2 separate regions of the Homo sapiens genome follow, and region 2 is linked to region 1. Evidence: fine-mapped expression QTL. A gene starts in region 1. The other region holds a variant in brackets. All regions are shown on one strand. Distances are from middle to middle.

Region 1 (2,761 bases):
GGCCAGACAGAGGACATTAAAAGGAACAGAAATGGTTTTAGACAGCTAGAGGGATCTGCTCAGGGGATATTTGGGCAGAGCCTCCTCCTTGAGAAGGGTAGGAGCCAGATCCACAGACGAAGACCCTTAGAGCCTGCCCATCCCTGCTGGCACAAGGGGAGGATGGGGAGAGAGGGACCATACGCAGGCCTCCTGGCTTCTGTATGTGGGTCCTGAGGCCCAGGAAGCTCTACAGCCCTGAAGAGGTAGATGAATTAGGAGGCTGGGAGATGGTGTAGGAGGTCAAGAGGATGCCTGGGCTGAGCCATCTCCCCCACTCCCCTCAGCCCTGTGCTCTGAGTGCAGAGATGGGGAAGAGCCAGCCCACTAAAGATGTCAGAGAGGAGCCAAAGAAAAAGGATAGGTGCTCAAGGAGTCTGGGGCTCAAGACTGAGGACGATGGGGCAGTGATGAGGAGAGGCATGTGGAAGGGGGTTGCATCTGATCTGGTGTCCCATCAGTTAGGCTGAGCAGTGCCACACTACCGTAACAGAGGTTACAAATGGAGTATATCTAAATAAGATAGACAGAAGACTTGATATTATCAAGACATCAGATTTCCCCAGCTTGATCTATAGATTCAATGCAATCCCAATCTTGGGAAAGGAATTGCTGGATCAATGTGTATTATTTTGTTTTCATTTTGTTGGATGTGGTTGCCACATTGGCTTCCACAGTCCTTCCTATGGATTGCCAATTACCTCGCACCTTCAACATGTGTGGTCAATTTTTTTGAATGTTTGATAAACCCACAACTGAAGATATTCTCATTTAGGTATTCTGTAACGACTGGACAGGTTGGGCACTCTGGTCATAAATTTATTGACCAGGATTTCTTCTAAGAATCATCTACGTGAGTTTTTTTGCTAATTTTTCTATTAAATTATTGTCTTTTTATCTATGGACAATTTGATAAGATTATCATGAGATAATCTTAATTCCAAAATATCTCACACTTTATCCCAGTTTATCTTCTGACTCTAATTTTTAATCAGATTTAAAATTTGTCTGTAGTCCAGTTTATCATTCTTTTCCTTTAGTGTTTCCAAGTTTATTGTGATATTTAGATCATAAAAACATTCACCGACTTTTTTCCAGTACGTTGTTGGTTTCCTTTTTAGATGGAAATGTTTGACCCATCTGGAATTTATTTTGGTGTTAAGGAATGAGGAAGGGCACCAACTTCTATTTTTCCAAATGGCCTGCCAGTTGTCCTAATGCCATTCGACTGAAAAATCTTCCCGCGTGTTTGAAGCGACCGCCCCACCAGCGCATTGGAAACCCGCGTGTCGGTCCTGCGCCCGCCGGCTTCCGTGTGACAGTCCCGAGCGCAGAGGGATCGGGCACAGCCCGCACGCGTCCGCCCCGAGCCGCCGGCTCAACCCTAGACCCAGCCCCGGCGCCAAGGACACAGCCCACCCCGCTCCGCCCGGGCCTAGGTCCCAGTTCACCCTCCCTAGCCGGGGACGCCCCCTTGACCCCGCCTCCTCCACCCCCTCCAACACCCTCCCCGCCCCGCTCCAGCCCAGCCTCTCCTCCCGGAGGCCAATGGGGCCGAACAGCGCTTTCCGAGACATTAATTTAAATAAAAGGCGGGTCCTCTGCCGTTATTTGCATGGAGGCGGGTCTTCCGGAGCGGCCGGGACACCCAATCCTGTAGGAGCCCGGACCCTCCCCAGCGCTCCGACTGGCCCAAGTAGCGAGCCCCACGGAGAGGCCTCATTTGCATAGGGCGGGGCCACGTCCTCTTCCAGCCGGCGGCCGCCCGCCCGCCCACCCGCTTCCGTCAGCCTCACTGGGGCTTCCTTCCGTCTCGCTCGGAGTTTCCCTCTGCGTTCGCTCCGCGCTGCTGGAGGCTGTCGTCCCAATGCTCCCCAAACGGCGGCGAGCGCGGGTCGGGTCCCCTAGCGGCGATGCCGCTTCCTCCACGCCGCCCTCGACGCGCTTCCCGGGAGTCGCCATCTACCTGGTCGAGCCTCGCATGGGTCGCAGCCGCCGGGCCTTCCTCACAGGCCTGGCGCGCTCCAAAGGCTTCCGCGTCCTTGACGCCTGCAGGTGCGGGGCGGCGCGGCGCGGCGAGGGCTTCCATGGCACTTCTGGTTTTGGATTCTAAGTTTGCAGTGGCACTTCGTGGTCTTGTGACCTTTCCCTGAGCCTCCATCTCCTCTTCTGTAAAGGGTGCTATTAATTAGGGCGAGGCGTGTTTTAAAGGATCACTGCGAGAATCAAAACCAGAGGTCAGGGGTAATTAATAAGCAGTAGGCCGGGCGCGGTGGCTCACGCCTGTAATCCCAGCACTTTGGGAGGCCGAGGCGGGCAGATCACGAGGTCAGGAGATCGAGACCATCCTGGCTAACACGGTGAAACCCCGTCTCTACTAAAAATACAAAAAATTAACCGGAGGTGGTGGCGGGCACCTGTAGTCCCAGCTACTCGGGAGGCTGAGGCAGGAGAATGGCATGAACCTGGGAGGCGGAGCTTGCAGTGAGCCGAGATCGCGCCACTGCACTCCAGCCTGGGCGACAGAGTGAGACTCTGTCTCAAAAAAAAAAAAAAAAAAAGTCGTATTTGCTAACAGCCCTTCTGCCTGGGCTATGTCCCACCTGTGAGCGAGACTGACTTCTCAAGAGGCCCGGAGCCCGCAGGCTCCTCTGTCCTCAGGCCTGAGTAAATAACACGACTGAGAAGCTCTTGTAGGAAGGGAACCAAGAGAAGAAAAAAT
Region 2 (3,023 bases), 29 kb after region 1:
ATGGCTAACTACATACAAAAAAATGCTCAACATCACTAACCATCATCAGGGAAATGCAAACCAAAACCATAACGGGCTATCATCTCACCACAGTTAGAATGGCTATTATAAAAAACATAAAAAATAAATGCTAGCAAGGATGTGGAGAAAGGGAAATTCTTATACACTGTTGGTAGGAATGTAAAGTAGTACAGCCATTATAAAAACAGTATGGTTTTTTGGGTTTTTTTCTGAGACAGAGTCTTACTCTGTTGCCCAGGCTGGAGTGCAGTGGACAATCTCGGCTCACTGCAACCTCCACCTCCCAGGTTCAAGAGATTCTCTGCCTCAGCTTCCTGAGTAGCTGGGATTACAGGTGCCCGCCACCACACCTGGCTAATTGTTGTATTTTTTTAGTAGAGACGGGGTTTCACCATGTTGGCCAGGCTGGTCTTGAACTCCTGACCTCAGGTAATCTGTTCACCTTGGCCTCCCAAACTGCTGGGATTACAGGCGTGAGCCATCGCGCCTAGACAACAGTATGGTTTTTAAAACAGTATTTTAGTCCTACTAAAAGCAGAACTACCATATGATCTAGCAATCCAGCTGCTGGGGATATATCCAACTCTGAAGTTCAGCGCTATTAACAATAGCCAAGATACGGAATCAACCAAAACGTCCATCAATGGATGAAAGGGTAAAGAAAATTTAGTATATAAACATGAGGGAATATTATTCAGCCATAAAACAGAATGGCATCCTGTCATTTGCAGCAACATGGATGGAACTGGAGGTCATGATGTTAAGGGAAATAAGCCAGGCACAGAAGACAAGTATTGCATGTTCTCACTCATGTGGGAGCTAAAAAAGTGGGTATCATGGAGGGAGAGAGTAGAATGCTGGTTACCAGGGGTTGGGAAGGGCATGGGGGAGAGAAAATGAAGAGAAGTTGCTTAACAGGTACAAAAGTACAGTTAAATAGAAGGAATAAATTCTAGTATTCAATAGTACAGAAGGGAAATTATAGTTAACAATAATTTTGTGTATTTCAAATTAGCTAGAAGAGAAAAATTGTAATGTTCCCAACACAAAGAAAAGATAAATGTTTGAGGTGATGAACATGCTAATTACCCTGATTCATCGTATACATTGTATACAGGTATCAAAATATGACATGTATGCAAAAAATATGTACAACTATTATATATCAATTTATAAAAACTCTGGGCCAGGTGCGGTGGCTCT[C/T]GCCTGTAATCCCAGCACTTTGGGAAGCTGAAGAGGGCAGATCACTTGAGCTCAGGGATTCCAGACCAGCCTGGCCAACACAGGGAAACACCATCTCTACTAAAAATAGAAAACTTAGCCGGGCATGGTGGCAGGCACCTGTAATCCCAACTACTCAGGAGGCTGAGGCAGGAAAATCACTTGAACCTGGGAGGCAGAGGTTGCAGTGAGCCGAGATCGTGCCACTGCGTTCCAGCCTGGGTGACAGAGTGAGACTGTCTCAAAACAAACAAACAAACAAAAAACAAAACAATTAAAAAAAACTCTGATAAAAGAATGCCATGCATGTTTTCTACAAAAAGTAAGCCAATGATTTCTTCATAAGAAGCCAGACCCATGACGTCATTCACTGTTGCTATACAGGTTGAGCATCCCTTACCTAAAATTCCAAAATCTGAACTGCTCCAATGAACATTTCCTTTAAGCATTATGTCAGCACTCAAAAAATCTCAGATTCTGGGCTGGGCGTGGTGGTTCACGCCTGTAATCCTAGCACTTTGGGAGGCCAAGGCGGGCAAATCACGAGGTCAGGAGATCGAGACCATCCTGGCTAACACAGTGAAACCCCGTCTCTACTAAAAATACAAAAAATTAGCTGGGCGTGGTGGCGGGTGCCTGCAGTCCCAGCTAATCGGGAGGCTGAGGCAGAAGAATGGTGTGAACCCGGGAGGCGGAGCTTGCAGTGAGCCAAGATCACGCCACTGCACTCCAGCCTGGGCAACGGAGCGAGACTCAGTCTCAAAAAAAAAAAAAAAAAATTCAGATTCTGGAGAATTTCGGATTTTGGATGCTGAACTGAAAACATTCCCAAATCTGAAAAAATCCAAAACATTTCTGGTCCTAAGCATTTCAGATAAAGGATACTCAAACCTGTATATCGATAAGCTGGGAATTCTCTTATCAGCTCCTAGATGGAAACTGAGGTATAGCTGAAGAAATGTTGGCAGAACGAGAAATCAAAATTCTGAGTCTCCTTTGCCAGAGAAATGCAAAAAGTTACCTGACAAGTGACCAACAAATGCTTTTGTTACAAATAGTTTTTAAAATTTAAAAAGGTTCTATTATAGGACTGACATAACTCCATGTAGAGGGGGCTGGAAAGGAATGCATCAAAAGGGCACATGCGTGCTAAGATGGTGGGCACTCTCCCCTTCCTCCAAATCCTGACGGTATTACTAAACTGTTTAGAGGGATCATAAAACAAAACAGAACCAGGGCCCACCCTTCTCACGGCACCAGCTCCAGCATAGTCCTTTATCCTGCCCCACTGAGGCAGGCCTGTAGGTGGCCCTGGCAACATCCTGACCTCCCATGCACTCACTGACCGAGAGTGAAGCAGCCTCTGGTCATGCCCTCAAAGGCAGGCAGAGAGCATTAGCTATGAGCACACTCCCAACTCCAGTTCTGATTCCCACTTGCTCGCACCCAGGAACCTGCGAGACCTCAAGCCTGTGAGGCCTGTTCCCAGTGAAGCGGGCCTCACCTGGCCTTACCTTCAGGAAGCTGGCCATGGTGCTGACGTGGCTGGCACAGGCTCCCTTCCGCACATCGTTCACGCCCTCGCCTGTCTGCAACACAAGGATGCCCAGGTTGACCCAGGCCTCCCCCAAAGCCACTTCCCTTCCCTGGGGACCCAACATCTACCCTGTGTCCCAGAAAAGAGAAAACTGCAACCCCCAAAGCAGAACCTATTCTTCTGACTGCATCACATGGGTGAGGTAAGTTCCCATGCCTCCAAGGGGCTCATGGATTCTCCCTGG

The links.
Region 2: its variant is fine-mapped to the expression of POLM in whole blood (TOPMed, PIP 0.94).

The regions. Positions count from the first base shown.
Region 1 is chr7:44,081,584-44,084,344 of GRCh38, reverse strand. It overlaps POLM (DNA polymerase mu), which reads left to right and starts at 1,815. Exons shown (of 11, transcript NM_013284.4): 1 at 1,815-2,094. The coding sequence starts at 1,907. RefSeq lists a silencer at 1,250-1,829 and an enhancer at 1,541-2,041.
Region 2 is chr7:44,052,675-44,055,697 of GRCh38, reverse strand. DBNL (drebrin like) reads right to left here. Exons shown (of 13, transcript NM_001014436.3): 4 at 2,757-2,831. Among named protein-coding and RNA genes, the nearest start is that of MIR6837, 2.4 kb to the right of the region's middle. The variant C/T (reference allele first, on the strand shown) is at 1,225.